Linked DNA regions of Homo sapiens: region 1 is linked to region 2. Evidence: fine-mapped expression QTL. A gene starts in region 2. The other region holds a variant in brackets. All regions are shown on one strand. Distances are from middle to middle.

Region 1 (9,992 bases), 40 kb before region 2:
GGCAGATCACTTGAGGTCAGGAGTTCGAGACCAGCCTGGCATGGTGGAACCACGTATCTACTAAAAATACAAAAATTAGCCGGGCATGGTGGTGCATGCCTGTAATCCCAGCTACTCAGGAGGCTGAGGCAGGAGAGGCGGAGGTTGAACCCGGAGGCGCAGTGAGCCGAGACTGCGCCGTTGCACTCCAGCCTGGGCAACAGAGTGAGACTTGGTCTCAAAACAAAAAAACAAAAAAGAACATTAGCTTATAGATTCTTAAGTCTGGTTTCCAGAAATATGACTGTGAACCAAGTTTCCTCTCCCCATTAATAACTTTTCTCCAGTTATTTTTTGTTGGTTAAGCAAAAAGACAACAAATAAACACAAGTCCATCAGTCACTCTCAATTTTCTGCACTTGCGTTTTTGATTCTAAGCATCTTTTATGTGATTCCTCATTAAGTTTACTGAGGCATTACGTGTATGGGGTTCTTTAATTTCTGTGGAAAGCACTGTAAAGACACTGGCCACCACCACAAGGTCACAGGGGAAGACAACTGAAGAATAGACTTTGGTTTTTATTGTGTGCCAGAAAAACAATCAGCCTTATTTCCTTCTGGGTTCTCGAGGTTATCTGCCAAGAACCCACAGGGCCGCAAAGAGAATTCTCTCTCCTGTCTGTCTTTAAGACTAAATTAGCACAGACTCTGAATCTTAAAGTTTTTCAAACAACCCAATGAAACCATCACTGGAAAATTTTAACACTGGCAATAAAAACTAATTACCCGCACTGATCTCAGGACTTGGTGGTGGTAAAATAAAATAACAAAGTGACACTGAAATCACTTCCTTTCTCTACACCAGCTTCCACCTCCGAATGTGGGCTTCGGGAGAGAAAAAAGAAGGGATGAAATTGAAGAGAAAGGGAAAGGGTCACTCTGGAAAGATGTGGACTCACTCAAAACTGGGGAGTAGGCCAGGCGCGGTGGCTCACGCCTGTAATCCCAGCACTTTGGGAGGCCAAGGTGGGCCGATCACTAGGTCAGGAGTTCAAGACCAGCCTGGCCAATATGATGAAACCCTGTCTCTACTAAAAATTCAAAAAATTAGCTGGGCATGGTGGCGGGCACCTGTAATCCCAGCTATTCAGGAGGGAGGCAGGAGAATCACTTGAAGCCAAGAGGAGGAGGTTGCAGTGAGCCAAGATTGCGCCATTGCACTCCAGCCTGGGTGACAGAGTGAGACTCCATCTCAAAACAAACAAACAAACAAAACACAACTGGGGAGTGAAATTAAAGCTGCCTGAGGGATAACCAGCTTGACAACGGAGGCTGGTTCTATTTTCCCACTAGAGAAGAAAGGGAAGTGGGTTTCAATAGCAGGGAATGATCCTGGCCTGGAAGAATTCCTGACACAGAGAAGCTATGGAGACTTCCATGTGTGGAATCCAAGGACCCCCTGTCCCCGTGTTATTTAAAGAGTATTCCCTGCGCTTGGCTGGGTGCGGTGGCTCATGCCTGTACTCTCAGCACTTTTCAAGGCCAAATAGGGTGGATCACTTGAGGTCAGGAGTTCGGGACCAGCCTGGCCAACATGGTGAAACCCCGTCTCTACTAAAAATACAAAAATTAGCCGGGCGTGGTGGTGCACACTGTAATCCCAGCTACTCAGGAGGCTGAGGCAGGGGAATTGCTTGAACCCAGGAGGCGGAGGTTGCAGTGAGTCAAGATCGCGCCACTGCACTCCATCCTGGGCGACAGAGTGAGGGCTCTGTCTCAAAAAAAAAAAAAAAAAGAAAAAAGAAAAAAAAAGAAAAAAAAAAAGAAGAAAGAAAGAAAAAGAAAGAGTATTCCCTGTGCCACTAGGATAAAAATACGTGAGAAATGTAGGTAGTGCACGCGTGCACGCTTCTAGTTTCCATAGTTATATATTTCTTTAGTGTGTAAAGGAAAAATATGTGAGCTTCATCCTTCCAGTTGTCCGAAAGACCTTGGAGCCATCCCTGACAACTGCTTTTATCTCACAGCTCACATTCATTCCAACAAGCGATCTGGATCTATCTTCAAATTATAGCCAGAATCAGCCATTCCTCACTACCTACAAGGCCTCCATGCTGCACAGGGCCACCATTATCTCTTGTTTAGATAACAGCAATTGAAAGTGCAATTGCCTCCAGTGGAGGGTGTGACAGTGCAACCTGCAGACCTCCCTCCTACTCCTGGGAGCATAAATGCTGGACTTCGAAATCCAGCCTTCAGCCTCCCACAGCTCTTCCCTGTCAATCACTGGTGCAGCAGGGCACTAAGGCAGACCTGTTCCTGGAAGATGAGGTCTCCTTTGTCAGCAGCCTTTGGCTGAAGGGCTTTCCCATGGCTTCGCCCAGCCTTTCCCATGCCGCACTGCAGTCTGGGACACTTTCACCCATTTTTCTCACCCTCTTCTCTTCACTGGGGTGGGACCGGCATCCTGGTCTAATGGTTCTCCCAGCCTTCCTGGGCTCCCTCCCCATTTTCTCTCACACAAGCACTTCCCCTAATGAAATCCTTGCATGTTTAAGCCCATCTTGGTGTCTGTTTCTGGGAGGGCACAGACTGATAGTCACTCTAACCAGTCTCCCTGCCCTTGGTCCTCCCAGCCAATTTTCTACCCAGGAACCAGAGTGGTCCTGTTAAAGCACAAATCAGATTCTGTCACTTCTTTTCTCAAAATGCTGCAATGGTTTCCCCATTTCACTAACAGTCAAACCCAAGGTCCTTACGAATGTCTGCCATGATCTGCTATCACCTACTCCCTATCACCACTCTGATGTCCTCCTCAACAGCTCTCGCCCGGAGCCCACTCCTCTCCATCACGGGCATCCTGCTGTTCTGTGTTCATGCCAGACACTCCTGACTCAGGGCCTTTGCGTGAGTTCTCCCTTGGCCTGGAATGAGCTTTACTCAGGTTCCTGCATGGCCAATGCTCTCATCTCCTTCAAGGATTTGCTCACATGTCATCATCTGCCCAAGGCCCCCTCACTATCCTACTTAACACTCAGCCTGCCCCTCACACCCACATTTCTGATTCCTCATCACCTCTTCCTGTTCTACTTTGTCTTTTTCCCCATGGCACTCGCTCGTCACTTTCTGAAATACCAGATATTGCCTTCCACATCCCCTCTCTGTGAGGCTGGAAGTAAGGCATTTCAAGATGATGAGGCCAGAAGATGTGGGCTCAGAAGTGTGCTAGCCATGAGAGCCCCCTGGGACGAGCTCCTGTGTGAGCAGGAATATTCATGCTGCACTTTGTGAGAGCGAAAGGTAAACCTTTTTGTTCTAAGCCACACTGATACTTAGGGGTGGTTGTTCTTTCATGACATCTAGTGCTAATTACCTAACTAATACTAATCTATTTTCCTTTCTCTTCTTTTTTTTTTTTGAGATGCAGTCCTGCTTTATTGCCCAGGCTAGAGTGCAGTGGCACAATCTCGGCTCACTGTAATCACCACCTCCCTGGTTCAAGCAATTCCCCTGCCTCAGCCTCCCGAGTAGCTGGGATTACAGGTGCTCGCCACCACATCCGGCTAATTTTTTTTTTTGTATTTTTAGTAAAGACAGGGTTTCACCATCTTGGCCAGGCTGGTCTCGAACTCCTGACCTCAGGTGATCTGCCCGCCTCGGCCTCTCAAAGTGCTGGGATTACCGGCATGAGCCACTGTGCCCAGCCATCTATTTTCTTTTTCAAGGAGCAGCAGGGTGATGGTCTAGATGATCCTGCAAAGTCCCTCCCTGGACTATAACATCGGAGTGCTCATACTTGGGTTATTCCAGAAGAGACAAGAAGAAATAGCCTAAAACAAAAGCTTCTAGGGGTTGCCATGAACATATTCTCAGTGATAGCTGTTCATGAAGGCAACCTTCATGGGTTCCTAGTACCAAGTCCTGCCTGTGACGTTTACAAAATCCACTGCTGCATCAGCTGCTTCTGATTTCAGGAAAGCACAGAGACCTGGTGTATCAGTCTCTCGTGGAGGAGGTGGACTGGGGCATGCCTGGATTGTGGGGTAAGCTAGGCATGTTCCATCTGGAAAAGTAAGTTTAATATTAGAGTCATATTTGGAAAACAAGACTAATATTATTTCCAATTTTCTTAACTATTGTAAGTAAGCAAAGACAGATTGAATTCTTTGTTTTATGTTTTGCAAGAAGGGCTGGAAAACTTTAGTGCTGGAAGTGTGAGAGGAGAAGACCATCCTTGCACATATCAAGAGAAACAGAATTTAAAATTCCAATGAGATACCATTTCCACCTATTATACCGACACATAATAACGGCAATGACAACAACTAACATTTCTGAATGCTTACTAAGAGCTGGGTTCTATTCTAACTCAGCGTATCCTCACAACAAAGTTATTGGTAGGTATTTAAATTATCCCCAGTGTACAGATGAGTAAGCTGAGGCACAGAGGGGCTAAGTAACTTGCCCAAGGTCACTCAGCTACTAAGTGGTAGAGATGGGATGCATACCATGACATAAATGGATCATCTTCAAGAAATAATATTAAG[T/C]GAATTAAGCAAGGAACAAGAGTGTGTTTAGTATGTTACCACTGGGTTGAAAAAATATGTGTGTATTTATGTGCATGTCTATCCACATGCATACATATGTACTTTTACATCTGTATATTTATGTATAGCTGCATCTATAGATCTATATCCATATCTCTCTGCGGTCTCTGATAGAATCCTTAAGGAACTGTTAACTGGTTGTCTCCTCTGAGGAATTAAGTGACTGGGGAAATGGGGGTATTAGAAGCTCAGTTTTCTCTCTCTGCTCTTTGGTGTCATTTGATTTGAATCACATGCTTTAAATGAGCTATTCAAAAAGATAAATAAAAAATTTATTTACTTTATTGACTGAAAGAAAAAATTGCAAACGTATATAATCCAACCTGAGACAAGGAAACAGTTCTCTCCATGAGCGTCTTGGTCCGCTTAAAGCCCGGGTCACTTTCTGCAAGGACATTCATGGTTTTCTTGCCGATGAATTCCAACGCATCAAGGCCTCCAGTTAAGACACTTTTACCCTGCAGATGAGATAACTGCATGAGATTAGATGTTTAGGTTTTGCTGTTTCGCAGCAGTCAGCAACTCCTAGGTAACTGGCACTATCTTCAAATATTAAAATCAATATAAAGTCACAATTTTTTCTCATCAGGAGATTTATCATCCATTTAATCCTATTCTCGTTTCCTTGGAAAAGCATATGTTATATAATTTGTAGGACATACAATGTTATTAAAGACTGATGCTTAGAAAAAAACCAAAGCACATAAAATAAAATTAATCCCACAAAGGGATTAATTTTACTGGCTCTCTGTGTATGAATGGATGTGTATCTAAGACATAAAATTAACATAAAATAAATTGCTAAGACATAAAATTAACATAAAATAAATTGCTGTTTCTGTTTAAAAATTTTTTTAACCCAAGTAACAGAGTTGCTTGGAGCAGTCTATTAAAATGTCAAACAGTCCTGCTAATTTAGGGAATTCTTTAATCTAGGGCCCTGGAGGGTAAGACCCTCAGGCTGTTTCAGATGGTTCTTGCATACTCTCAGAAACTAGCAATAACTGCCTATAATTAGTATATCCATGAAATGAGACAGGTTGATTTCCTTGTACTTCTGGCTTTAGAAACTGGTGTATTATATAGCTATCCTCCTGCAAATCCCTTTGTCAGTCATTGTTGCTTTTTTTAAAAAATTAAAATAACCCAGACTTACTCACACATAAACTATTCAAGTGAACAGAACTGCATACATGTCTTTGCAACTCTTTCATACTTACACTCCAACTGTATAACTGCAATTATAATATGCATACATCTGTGTTTTTCCCCACCATATATAAAAATGATATAAATTGTATTTTATTATGATATTATTACTGATATGCATTTTCCAATCTTCATAATTATCATTTAAATAGAAGTATTTAATTTCATAGAATTAATATACTTTATTTTCATCTTGGGTATTTAGACTTTGTTTTTAGATTTGGGAGCCAACCAGTAATCATGCTGTAAATCAGTTTTCAGTGCGCACACTTCGGGGGGATGATGGGACAGCAGCAATTCACACTTCTGTGTAATTTGACTTAGTGCCTGCTAACATCCTATGAAAAATTATTTTATTGAGAATAAAATGGTGGAAGAAAGGACACAGGGATTTGTGTTAAGGATAGACTTGGAGGGGTAGTGTCTGGAACTTGGGAAAAAGGGGTCAAGAAGGTTGGAGAGAACACAGAAAGGAATGTGAGGCTGCTGAAGACAAACTCATAGTGCCCTCTTGGTAGCTCAGATAGGCCGTGAATTCATTTCTTATACCAGAGGTACTGACAGAGCTCCATCCATCTCCCATCCTACAAACCCCCCACGGGGGTGGTTGACTTGTATTGCTACTTGACTCCTAAGACAGATTTGCTGCTCCTCCTTACTTCCCCCACCCCAGTCTAGAGGTCCTCAAATAGCAAGGAGAAGACCAGTCATTTTCTATATTTCTGGCATGTCCTGACCCCAAGGTCTGGGTGAGATCCTCTCATGTTTGACCGCAGCCCTCACCTCTTCCCGAATTACATTGTGTTTATTTGTTCAGTCGCCTCAGTCCTCTGGGATATTGTGCCCTCTTGTTTGCCAGCATATATCCAAGATCTAGCATAGATACTGGAACATAGTGAGGGCTAATCATGTTTGTGTTGTTGTTTTTCTTTTAATGAATGAATGAATGAATGAATGACTAAATGAGACACGAGCCATATTTTTAGAAAAACTAGTTAGTTTACATAGTAAGAAATACACCTTCACACCTGTAATCTCAGCACTTTGGGAGGCCGAGGCAGGAGGATCACCTGAGGTCAAGAGTTCAAGACAAGCCTGGCCAACGTGGTGAAACCCCATCTCTACTAAAAACACAAAAATTAGCTGGGTGTGGTGGTGGGCACCTGTAATCCCAGCTACTTGGGAGGCTGAGGTGGGAGAATCACTTGAATCAGGGATGCGGAGGTTGCAGTGAGCCGAGATTGCACCACTGCACGCCAGCCTAGGTGACAAGAGTGAGACTCCATCTCAAAAAAACAAAAGAAAAAACAAAATAAATCTTTGCTCCCTGACCCTGATGACCAGCTACCTGCCTTATCTCAGTTGAGGTGCCTCCCCTTTTTTCATTATTCACCAATGTTTTGCTGCTAATATGGAGCTTCTTCTAAGAGGTAGGCAGGGATCTAGGGGGATACACTTAGGGTGGTGTAAGGAGGAGGAAGGGTGGGAATGAAGAGGTAGGGATGGGGGAAGAACGCTGGTCTCTGGAAACACTTCAGAAACATATTTGGGCTGTTTTTCCTGTCTTGTAACGGGTACTTTTTATTTAAACGGTTTAATGCTTTTTCAAACTCAGGGATAAGATAAGCAGAGCATTTAGGAAAAACAGCTGTCCCAGCTCTGATAAAGAGTTCTCTCTCCCCTCAACCAGAGGCTGTCCTTGCCGCAGCTGGAAAGGACACTGTTAAATCAGACTGAAAAATGTTCCTTCCAAACAGCTCCCTTCTTTTAAACATAAAATATATTTCATTTTGCCCTTATTATTTTGAATCCAAGGTTACGTCTACTTTGTAGCAGAAAACATTAAAAAAAAAACCATAATCCAAAGTTCTGAGCAAGGCCATCGTTTCTCTGATGTATCTAGGTCACTGGTAAATGGAAATATCAAAAGAAGGCCCTGGGAAATACAGGGGAAAGAGAGGAAGCAGCCAGCGACTCACTGTGTTTTGAACCACATTGGTGATGGCAGACAGCATACCCCGAGAGGCTGATGAAGGGGAAGTGGGTGGGCTTTCTGCAGGGCCCTGATCTGTGGCTGCATCTGTTACTAAAGAGAAAAAAGAAATCCTTTAAGAGTTCACGTCGCTGATCTGAACTTGGAAAACCTCTGATTATGCACATGGTGTAATAAAGTCCAAGAACACCCAGAGGAGACACATCACTCACTTTCAGGGACTCCGTTTTCAGTATTTGGTTGGGCTCCTTCAGAAGATCCAGAATTTACACCATGAATCCGTAGAGTGGCTCCTGCTTTTTCCTTGACTGCCGTCAATCCATGACCTGTTGGAAATAAAAATATGGTTCATGGATACATTAGAAATCCACGGTCTGCAAATCCTCCACCAAATCTTACAAAGCTGTTTCAAGTTGCAGAAGTACATCTTTCTTTTTTTTTTTTTTTAAAAGATGGAGTCTTGCTCTGTCACCCAGGCTGGAGTGCAGTGGTGCAATCTTGGCTCACTGCAACCTCCGCCTCCCGAGTTCAAGTGATTCTCCTGCCTCAGCCTCCCTAGCAGCTGGGATTACAGATGCACACCACCACGCCCGGCTAATTTTTGTGCCTTTAGTGGAGACTAGGTTTCACTAAGTGTTGGCCAGGCTTGTCTTGAACTCCTGACCTCAGGTGATTGGCTCACCTCTGCCTCCCAAAGTGCTGGGATTACAGGTGTGAGCCATCGCACCTGGCCTGTAGAAGTACATCCTGATTGAAAGAAAGAGGAATCCCTGCTCCCTGAGATGTGGGTTCCAATATGAGCTCAGTTTCACCCCTGCCTGGTTGAATGACCTTGGAGAAGTTACCTAGCCTCTCTGTGACTCAGTTTCCTCATTGAGTTATTGTGACGTGCAAATGAGATACACGTAGGTAAAGTGCTCCCGGATGCTTCACTGTTTGCTTTTGCTTCTCACACCACCTAGCTATCAACCTGGAATTCTAAGCTCAACACAGTCTTTGTATAGTGTACCTGTCTCATCCTCTTTACTCTTTTGTAAGCTCCTTATGGAAGATATTCTTCATTCATTTTTTTGATTCCTTGCAGGCTTAGCACATTGCAGATGATCAATTAATATTGGTTGGATTGAAATCACCTGAGCCTCAGAATGTTTCTTTAAAGCATTAGGCCTTCCTTTAGGCATGGAGAGTGAAGGTCCTGGAGCTGACATCCAAAAATCAAAAGGCAAGTCAGTGGAGAAACCAGGAAGGCCACCCAACAGCCCCGACAGTTGTCTTAATAATGATATAAATCAACCTTAACAGCAGTCAGGCAGGCGAAGAGCACAGGTTTTACTCCATCTAAGCAGGGATAATACCCTTGTTCCCTGAGCCAGGCAGAGCGGTTATTCAATAACTATTTGGTAAATACAGAGCTGACCTTCCTACCCACAGGGAAAAACCCCAACCTTTGACCTGATACGGACATAGTCTTGTCTACATTTTATTCTGGAGAGATTTTCCTCCCTTTGAGGCCTTCACGATGAGCTATAGCTTTTCTGAGTTGTCAAACTGTTGAAGGAATGAATAGCCTACGGATGGTCCAAAGTGGCTGTCTGACTTCTTGAAGGAGAAACAGCACAGGCTGCCATCATCACAGAACTCCCCATCCCCCGAGCACTCACGGAGAAAATGAAAGATTTCTCTCGGGACCTGGGTGACCTCAGGTTGCTAAAACACAAGGCAGTAATATGAGGAAAAACGTCCCAAGTCCCAACAGAATTTGAGAGCTAACTAGAACCACCTAGTCTTAGAAGGCACTGTTAAAATAACCAATTGCCCATTTCCTGAATAAGAAAGGGGAACACATGGATGACTCCCAAACCTAAAGAGTAGCATTTTAGCAGTTGTAACCTTATTTATCCTAGTGATCTTAGCATTAACAAGGCACTGATATTTGACAAATGTAGAAGGAATTATGTCCAATGGAAATCACCTGTCCTTATACACTACCTAGAAAACCCTGAAATGTAAACATTATTTACAACTGTAATCACATATAGAAATACGTGTTTATAGTCATGTGCAGATCATTAGACACAGTTCAAATTAATTACTGAGTTACTTGAAAAAATAAAGGTGTATTGCGACTGTTAAGGCTTGAATTAATTATCTCTAGCGTCCAATGAATTTCAAGCATTTCAATGGAAACTTATTGAAGTTTCAAT
Region 2 (9,992 bases):
ACATTGAAGACCCAGTTAAAATAACCGCCTCCTCCATTCTTTGTTCCTCCAGGTTGAACATTTTCCTTCTGAACCCTTCTGAGGGCATTTTGTGTTTATCTTACTTTAGACAGTTAAAGTCCTCTTTGATTAGAGTTGCTTCAGTTTTTCCTATGATTTGTAAATTCTATAAAGACAAAGACCTTCCTTGTTTTGTATTCATATTCTACATAGTACTTGGCATGGCTTCCTGTGCATAGTAGGAAGCTCAACAAATATGCCTGTTGAGTTAGATTAATATTTGTGTACAGACACTCAGGAGCTCTCTTACAGCAGATGGTTCCAAATGACTTGACATTTCCGTATTGTCTTTCTTTTTTCCTTCACCTCCCAGTTAATTGAGTTAGAATGTATTTGTGTAAGCAAAAATATCTGCCAGACCTTGAATTCAGTGATAATATTCCTGTAAACAAGTCTACATGTAAGAATGGCAACGAATGCAGACTTCCCTTGAGCTGGTATACAAAGTTTAGGATATTCAAGGTTGGCCGTGGGCTGTCAAGGAGCCAGGTTCAAGCCTAGCTGAAATAGTAAAGAACGATAGAAACCCACTGTATAGAGAAGGGGTAGTATTGTGGGTGGTTTATGGGAGGTGAGTAGAATTGATGGGGGCTGCTAAAAAGGCTGTTGTCATTTGGAAGTTTACAAAATCTTTGTGAAAACCTCTCTCTGAATCAGGACTAGCCTAGGACAGGGTGTTGGCAAACCAGTCTGCTGGCCAACTCTTGTCCTCTGCCTGTTTTGGTAAACACAGTTTTATTGGACCAGAGATACACCCTTTGTTTACATATGGGACCGTCATGGTTTCTCTGGCACTACAATAGCGGAGCTGAGTCATTGCAACACAGGCCATATGGGCTGCAAAGTCACAAAGCCTAAAATATTTACTATCTGGCCGGTTTCCGAAAATGTCTGCTTACCCATGGCCTAGGACTTTGCTTGATTGCCATGGCCTAAAGATTTCCCTGTCTTAATTTATTATCCTCACATGAGTCGTATGGACACAACAATGAGGAGAATGGGTTCATGAATAAATGATACCTTGCCATCACTTTTATTCTCATTTTTTTAAATCGGTAGATGGTAGACATTGTCTGATATTTTTATTTCTTTGTAAGGTAATTTGAAAATCCTTATTATTAATCTGGATTATTAGGAAGTCCCAAAATATTTCAGTTTTCTATAAGCAGGAACATCAGAGTAAATCTGGCTGTGATAAACACTTATGGGTAAATAAAAACCATTATGGATGCCTAAATGTACAAGCCTTGCCCTCATGTGTTGTTATCTTGTTCATGAAGTATCCTAAAATAGTTCAGCATATACTATGTGACACGTGCATGTTACTTAGTTTTAATTTGTGCCCTAAGGGTGGCTGGATGACATTTGAAGTGCCTTATTCAGGAATATACTATCCAGGGGTCTTTAGTAAGCACTTAAAAATCCGTAATGAGGTGACCACCTCTTTTTAGAGGGTTCATCTACCGTCTTCTCTGATGGGCACTCCAGGGTATGCTAATTAGCATAAGGGATATGAGAAATAATTTTTCACTGGTGACATGAAAGATGCCTCAGGTATGTGGATCGACAAGAAATAACGTACAGGTGCCTTCTCTGCTTCTATACCCAAGACATGAGATTGCACTGAATCCAGCAGCTGACTTACCCTTTGGAGTAGCGTTCTTCTAGGTTCTCTAGCTGAATGCAGGACTCCAAAGCCTGAAGGTGACTAGAAGCTTAGTTGAGTCCTGCCTCTAGAACACAGGCCTAAAAGGACAGTGAGCTAGGACTTCCTTGAGCTTATAAGAACAGACTGGTTAACTAAGCCTGTTTGCTAATACATGTGTGGGTTTATGGCAGAATTCCATCAGTGAACTTGGATTCATGGTAATTTAACTCTTGGTAGGGAAGTTGCAGAGGAGGAAACCTAGAGCCCTTACCTATCTCTGATGGCCAAATTACCTTAGGTCAGTTTATCCCAAATGTAGAAAAAGTACTGCAGTAAAACTCCTCTCTGTGGCTGTTCTGCATTCAACCAACACAAACCATCCCTTCAGAAATACCCCAGAAACTCAGCTGTAAGATGTTAAACAGGCATTGTTAAAACATATTTATGGACTATTGTCAAAAAATATTTATGGATTATTATTTAAAATATTTATAGATTATTGTTTAAAATATTTATGGATAATTTATAAATTTTATTAATACTAGATCTTTACATCTGTTAAATTTAAAAATGGTCATCGGTCAGGCATAGTGGCTCACATCCCAGCACTTTGGGAGGCCAAGGCAGACAGATCACTTGAGGCCAGGAGTTCCAGACCAGCCTGCCCAGCAGAGTGAAATCCTGTCTCTACTAAAAATACAAAAAAATTAGCTGGGCATGGTGGCATGTGCCTGTAATCCCAGCTACTCTGGAGGCTGAGGCATGAGAATTGCTTGAACCTGGAAGGCAGAGGCTACAGTGAGCCAGGATCATGCCACTGCACTCCAGCCTGGGTGACAGTGTGAGACCCTGTCGCAAAAAAAAAAAAAAAAAAAAAGAAAGAAAAAAAAGAAAGCCATGCAAGATCAGCTCTAATTCAATTTCTAATTGTGTGTATCTCTAATCCATATTTATCTCTACTTGTTACAGGTCTAATTTTCCCCAAATCAAAACGAAAAAAAATTATTTTTTGTTTGGTTGTTCTGGTAGAACTTTATCGACTGTGGATGCTATCATGATGGGGGAAATGTAATCATTTTTCAGACTATACCCTTTTGTATGAAACCACTAGAAACTGTGTGTTTGAAATACAGAACTGTTTCTGAGCAGGGGCTGCTGGAGTCCACCAGGATTACAGTCATGACAAGCACTGTGTTTCCTGGGACGGTTTCCATCTCCGTCTGGGTGTTCCATAAGCCAGACTTAGAAACCTTTCCTGATTTATGGTTAGGAACACTGATCACTGTAGCCATGTCTCGTGGACTGGAGGCTAGGGAGACTCAACCCACAGAAACAAGGAGGCTGCTTCAGGAAACTCTAAGGAGAGGAAGGGTGGCATATAAAGAAGCCTTTGTGGGCTGGGAATAAGTTAGTTTTTCGTGAGTAAATTCATTCATCACCTAAAATGCTCCCAGAACTATGCAAGGTATTTAAGCAGCAACATCACAGCTCCAAAAATAAGTATAAAACAGAAGACATGGTCACTATCCTTCAGAAATCAATCATCTGTTTGAGGAGCTAACACAAAACAGTTAAAAAGTGATGCAAAACAGCACAGCAAATCAAGGACAGATGTGCCTGAACTAGACTGACCCTGTGCAAGGGAGAATCTTGAAAGTGTCTTTGATGTGGTGATTCAGGCCTGGTGGGATGAGAGCATGTGCAAATGTCCAAGCATCAGCGATGGACTGTAGTGATTCAGGACAGGTGTCTGAGAGGCCAGGACATGAGGCTGCATGGAGGAATGATGAGAGGTGGGAGCGATGGTATTCTGAGGTGGAAAGAGTTGTGTCCTGCAGGCGTCAAGGGATGTGGCCTCTGGTCCCAGTATCCCTTTGTGGGCACACAACTTGATCCTCACTGTGCTTACACCTGCTCCTCTGTAAAGCTAGGATGGACAAACTGATCTGGATGCTTTTTTTTCCAAACTCCACCTGCAGGACTGGGGCAAGTCTGTGATGATAGAGAAAAATGAGGACAAGATTGCAAGTTTTTCATAAATCTAAATTTATTAAATGTAAAGGACTGCCTTCATCTTTCAAGTTTAGCCTTTGTGCTTTTTCTTGGTATTAAAATGTCTTTCATTTTATGAAATAGTGACAGTGGATGGATTTTTTTAAAAAAAATGGCCTGACTTGGCAGCATAAAAATTTGGTTAGCATGATATCCTGTGTGAGGTCATCTCCCCCAGTTAAAAAAAAAAAACAAAAACAGTGCCAGTCAGCGAAGGACCAGGAATAAAAACTCTGGATGAGAGGCTCTTAATCAGGTTGTAGCAGTTTGTATGAGTTTGTATAAAGCTTGACAAGTCTACGTACCCAGGCTCCAGCCTATTCTCTGTGAGGCTGCCAGGCATTTTTGGACCTATTTGCTCTCCTGTTCAAAAACCATTAGGTGTAAATATCTTCACACTTCCCATCATAATCCAGCTCCAATCTCTCTCCACCTCTTGCAACTCTCAGTATCCTCCACTCCTGCCTCACCAGTCTTTTCTCCATTCCCCATAACTCTTCACATCTCCCTGCCTTTGCTTACGCTGGTTCCTCTGCCCCGGTGCTGCCCTTCCTCCAGCTGCCTGGCAAACTCCTATTCCTCTAGACACCCAGTGTCTAATGTTACCTTTCATTCTGAATTTTTCCTTAATCTGCCCCACTGCTTCCAATGAAATAACTGCTACCTCTTCTATGTTTTTGGCACTTTGCACAGATTTCTATTCCATGTATTTATGGAGTATTTACTTCTGCCATTCTGTCCTCCAAGACTGTGACCAACAGCACCTAGGTTGGTTTCTGTCCCTCAGATATTTACTGAATTGAAATACATTGTGTTTGATATTAATAAAAGAGAAACCATGTTTGATGTAAGCCTGGTCAAATAAACAAAGACAAGTTTACTTTTATGGTCTGAATCGCTCAGATTCAAGAAAGCCCCCTCCAACCCTCAAATTCCTTCTGCACTGTCTCACTTGTGCCTCAAATCCATCCCTAACGTCTCATTCCTTCACTTAAAGGTTACAATGTAAGAAGTTTATCAGATTCTTTCCCAAGCTCAGGCTTGATGGAAGAAAGGAGGGCGGGGACGCAGGCCTATGGGTGGGGTAGGGAAGGAGCCACTAGGCTGCAGAGAGGGCAAAAAGAGGCTCTGAGGATAGAGCCTGTCTCATTCTCAGTTGTCACAGGTTGGCTGAGGTCACAGGGAGTTCAGAGCACACTGATTTAAGAAGCCACCTGCCTGTGTCCTTCAAGATGTTTAGGATGGGAAATGATGGGATCAGTAGGGCATAGGTAATGCTCTCACAGCCCATAGAGAGATGTCTTCCTACTTAAGAAAAGGCAGTGACGTTCAGGCGCCTGGTCTGAGGTGCCTGGAAATACTCACCGGATGGCAGAGGCGAGGGCTAGCCGACTGGGTGGAGGGGGCCTGGGGATCTGCGGTAGGGAGTGGGACCCATCCCGGGGGCTGCGAGTGGAGGCGGTGCCTGCTTAGAGTGTTGGCTGGACTGGAAGAGCAGGCAGGGCGTGGGTCGGCTGTTGGGGGAGGAGTAAGGCGAGGGGAGCGGGGAGGTCAAGGCCTGAGCTCCCTGTGCCAAGGCCGAGGGCAGGCGCACCCTGGGACGAGGCCTCTGTCTTACAGGGACCTGCTCCCTTCGTGCCCGGGCTGGGGGACCCTGCAGCCCACCTCTGACTTGGCCCCGAGCCATTGGGGGCACTTTTCCAGACTTGCTTGGTGCCAGGACTGGATACTTTGGGAGATCCAGGCAGGCTCCGCGGAGGTTCACGCAGGCCGAGGGGGCAGACCCTGAGTGTGGGCGTGTGGGTGTGTGCATGAGCGTGGACCCGGAGCGACACACACTCACACACACACACTCACACGCCCGCACCCACGCAGGTCCCTCGGCCGCGCCGCCCCAGACCCTCACCCCAGAGCCGGGTCCTCCCTGACCACTGCTTCTCACTAACGCAGAGGGCAGGATTCGTGGGTCCCGGACGAGGCGCCAAGGTATGGTGTTCCCACCACCCCCGGGCAGCCGCCCCCGCGCTCGCCCGCCCCCCGGGGAAGGGGATGGGGACCGAGTGCCCGGGGCTCTTACCGCTCAGGCGGCCGAGTACGCGCGGGAGTGCCCAGCGGGTCCCGCCCCGCCACGTCTGCAGGGCCGGCGGGGACGCGGCCGGAGGGCGGGCGGCTGGAGAGGGGGCCCCGCCCCGCCTGCGCCCCGCCCCACGAGGAGCGCCGCGGGGACGCCCGGCCACCCCCACGCTGCGAGGGCCGGGCCCGCGCTGGGCGAGTCTCCTGGAAACTTGGCTTGTCCCACCCCTGTGCCAGCGCGGAAAGCCAGAGCGCGCCGCCTCTCCAGCCCAGGGCGGGTGGGTCTCGGGGTTCGCCAGATCCCTTTCCTTTCCTTAAAAGGGCTTGGAAAACCCCCCGCCGTGTCACTGGGAAGAGGTCGCTCAAATTCAGCTAAAGTTTGATCTCCTGATTCTGCGTTAAGCAGCACTCCCTTGCCCTGTCGGTGGGAGTGTGATAGATTTAAAACAAACAAACCCCAAACAAACAACGAAAACCCACTTTCCAGAAGGCCAGTTTGGAGCTGTGGGTTAAAACTCCGATGTATTAGCTTTGGCCTAGGAATTCCACATTTGTGAATTTGTCCTAAGTAGGCAGTCAAATGGGCAAATATGTATGTACAAGGATGTTTGTTGTAGTTGTTTCTGCGGGGGGAAGCCGGAGACAATCTCAATGTCCCCCAGTAAGATTGGTGAAGTAAGCTACAGTAACTTCAGACATCGAATATGTTGTAGCCCTTAAAAATGAGGATTCGTTGACATGGAGGGAAGGCCACATATGAAGGCCTTCCTCAAATATGGCTTAATATGAACTCAGATGCGGAGGAAGCGCAGTGTTTATAGTATTAACTAGTTTTGTAAACAATTTTGTATTTTCTATAAAAGTCGGAGGAAATACAATTTAAAAATAGTGATTCTTTCTGAGCGATGTGTTTAAGGCAGATTTTCTCCTCTCTCACTCCATCCCTTCTTCTTTTTGAAGAATTATAAATTCAAAGTTAAAGAAAAAATAGCCCTAGTCTCTCCCTTTCAATATCACTACCATTTTTTATAGTGTGTGGATCCTACCATAGTTTTTCTAAGCTTATATAAATACATGTATGCATAAACAGCTTTTTGTTTGCTTTTTTATAAAAATGGCGAGATGTTGACGTATTTTGTAAATTTCCCCCTATTTATTATATATTATAATCATCTTTCTTGGTCAATACATATCAACCAAAACCACTCTTCTAAGACTTGTCTTATATATTGCAATATGTTTGTAATTATATTTCATTCAATCATTCTCCTATTGACAATTAGTTTGCTCCTTATATTCCAGTTTCTTCCATATATATATTAATTAATTTATTAATTCATTTTTTTGAGATGGAGTCTTGCTCTGTCGTCCAGGCTGGAAAGCAGTGGCGTGATCTCAGCTCACTGCAGCCTCTGCTTACTGGGTTCAAGCAATTCTCCTGCCTCAGCCTCTTGAGTAGCTGGGATTACAGGTGCGTGCCACCACACCCGGCTAATTTTTGTATTTTTTAGTAGAGACGGGGTTTCACCATGTTGGCCAGGCTGGTCTCGAACTCCTGACCTCAGGTGATCCACCCACCTCGGCCTCCCAAAGTGCTGGGATTACAGGCATGAGCCACCGTGCCTGGCTATATTTCTTATTTAATATTTTTATTAAATATTTTTATATTAATAATTTTTTAAGCTACTGAATATTTATTTTATTTTATTTTTTAGGAGGACAGAGTCTTGATCTGTGGCCTAGGCTGCAGTGCAGTGGCACCATCTCCATCTCCTGGGTTCAAGCGATTCTTCTGCCTCAGCCTCTTGAGTAGCTGGGATTACAGGTGCGTGCCACCACACCCGGCTAATTTTTGTGTTTTCAGTAGAGACAGGGTTTTGCCATGGTGGCAAGGCTGGTCTCGAACTCCTGACCTCAAGTGATCTGCCCACCTCGGCCTCCCAAAGTGTTGGGATTACAGGCGTGAGCCACCACACCCAGCCTGTCATTTTTAAATTCATAGAAAAACCAGAAAGTTATCTTAATGTGAGAGTGGGTGGAAACTGCTTTAAATTGAGATCAATAGCCTTTTTGAATTGAGCGAGACTTTGAACCTTAACTAACACGTGGCTTCTGTAACTCAGTTTTTCCACCTCTAAAATAAAGAGCATTGCTCGGCACAGTCCCTTCCAGTTCTGGCTTTGCGAGTGTTATCAAATTATGTTCCAGTTGCAACAGGTGTGTTTTGGTGTAGCATATACACAGACGTCTGTGCCTGGGACTTCTGCTCCTGCCCAGAGACAGCAAGCACCTTTGCTAACCTGCCTTCCCTTCCCTGCTGTGCCGTAACAGCCCAATCAGATGTTCTCTTTTTAAAGGGCTGAGTTCCTCTTCTCCTTTGACCCAAACCACACCTATCCAATAAAGAAAATAAAGCAAACTATCCTGGCAACAAGTTTGTTTTTTGTTTTGCCCACTGCAAATTTGTCCCTTTTACTCATGTAGCTGCTTCCAGGACTACCAGATTTTATTTCAGATATTTTATTTATTTGCAATGTAAAACATTTTAAGTTCATTTAAAAATTTTCTGGAGTATTTAAAATATATAGAAAAGTAAAGAATAATATGACAAATACTTATTTGTGTAAAAAATATAGGAAATACTATGATGATATCTAGATTTAACAAAATTTTTTGCAGTATTTATTTTAGAATTTTCTTTGCAAAGAAAAAAATGTTACGGATATGTTTGAAACCCTATCCCTTCCATTGTCCACCATCTCTGCAGGTAGCCATTTTCTTGAGGTGGTTGTATATCCCTCCCACCCATATTTCTTTCTTTCTTATTTAGGAATGAGGTCTTACTCTGTCACCTAGGCTGGAGTGCAGTGGTGTGATGACGGCTCAGTGCGGCCTCAGACTCCTGGGCTCCAGCAATCCTCCTGCCTCAGCCTCACAAGGAGCTAGGATCACAGGGTGCCACTGCACCCAGCAAATTTTTAAATTTTTTTGTAGAGTCGTGGTCTTGCTGTGTTGCCCAGGCTGGTCTCAAACTCCTGGCTTTAAGCAATCCTCCCGCCTCAGCCTCCTAAAGTACTGGGACTACAGGTGTGAGCCACCATGCACAGCCCCCCTCACTCATATTTCTAAATGTTTGCTGCATATGTCCTCACCCACAAATGCACGTATAATTGTTTTTCAATGTTTTAGAATATTAAGGACATCCTGTACACTTGTTAACTTGCATTATATTTTTGAGAATCATTCATATTCACACATGTAGCTCTAGCACATTCATTTCAAAGTCTTCATAGGAGGGCATGAATATGCCACAATTTATTTCCCGATTGATCTACTTTATTGTGCTTCATATTTCACTCAATTACATATAATGCTACAATTGCCACCTTTGAATATATTTTTTAGTATCTAGGAAAAAAATGGAATAGCTGGTTCCCCTTTACTAGACATTGCTGAGTCGCCCTTCATTATGGGTCAACCATTTATTCAACATAACCTTTCTGAAAGCATGCACTGTGTACCAAATACGGCTGTAGGTGCTTGGAGTACAAAAGAAGCAAAGCAAACTCCTGGTATTCAAGAACTTACACTCCACAGAAAGGGAGATAGACCCTAACTAGAGGGTCTATATGAGGTGGTGGAGTAAAGCAGGCTATAGAATCTACAGGGTTTAGGGAATGATGGGTAGGACCAACTGTGGTCAAGGAAGTCCTTACTGATAAAGTGGCATTGCAATGTAGACTTTAAGGAAGTAGGGAAATGAACAGTGGCCATATCTGTAGACAGTCTCAGGCAGTTTGGGAGCATGGATGATGCATTCACAGAAAGGTAAGGTGGCCAGTGTGGCTGGAGCAGAGGGAGGATGGGGAAGAGTAGAAGAAAATGAGGCCATAGAGGTAGTGGAGGCTGAGAGATGGGCAGAGGGATTTTGGTTTATACTTTGAGTGAGACTGGCACCCTTATGGCTTTTGAGTATGATTCTAGTATCTGACTCTAGTCATATTGGAATTGGGTGAAGGTGGGAGGGGAGAGAAGGATGGAGGCTGGCATACCTGTTAGGATGCCATTGCAGTTATCCAGGTGAAAGATGATGATGCTTTTGACCACCATGGGAGTAGTGGGGGACATGAGAGGTGTTTGCTTATGGACATATTTCAAA

Alleles and levels. Alleles are on the strand shown, and positions count from the first base shown. SD is a standard deviation of normalised expression in the study named.
In carriers of allele C in region 1, the expression in skin of the gene that starts at base 5,866 in region 2 tends to be higher than with T alone (moderate effect, 0.57 SD a copy in TwinsUK).

Evidence for each region. PIP is the estimated chance that this variant, and not a neighbour inherited with it, causes the effect.
Region 1: its variant is fine-mapped to the expression of FAM114A1 in skin (TwinsUK, PIP 0.95).

What each region holds. Positions count from the first base shown.
Region 1 is chr4:38,903,644-38,913,635 of GRCh38, reverse strand. FAM114A1 (family with sequence similarity 114 member A1) reads right to left here. Exons shown (of 15, transcript NM_138389.4): 5 at 8,001-8,114; 6 at 7,775-7,881; 7 at 4,910-5,044. Among named protein-coding and RNA genes, the nearest start is that of MIR574, 41 kb to the right of the region's middle. RefSeq lists an enhancer at 9,442-9,611. The variant T/C (reference allele first, on the strand shown) is at 4,527.
Region 2 is chr4:38,863,680-38,873,671 of GRCh38, reverse strand. FAM114A1 (family with sequence similarity 114 member A1) reads right to left here and starts at 5,866. Exons shown (of 15, transcript NM_138389.4): 1 at 5,838-5,866; 2 at 5,126-5,274. It overlaps MIR574 (microRNA 574), which reads right to left and starts at 5,640; the gene lies at 5,545-5,640. It also overlaps a transcript of TLR6 not described here. RefSeq lists an enhancer at 4,732-5,315 and silencers at 5,523-5,572, 5,623-6,102.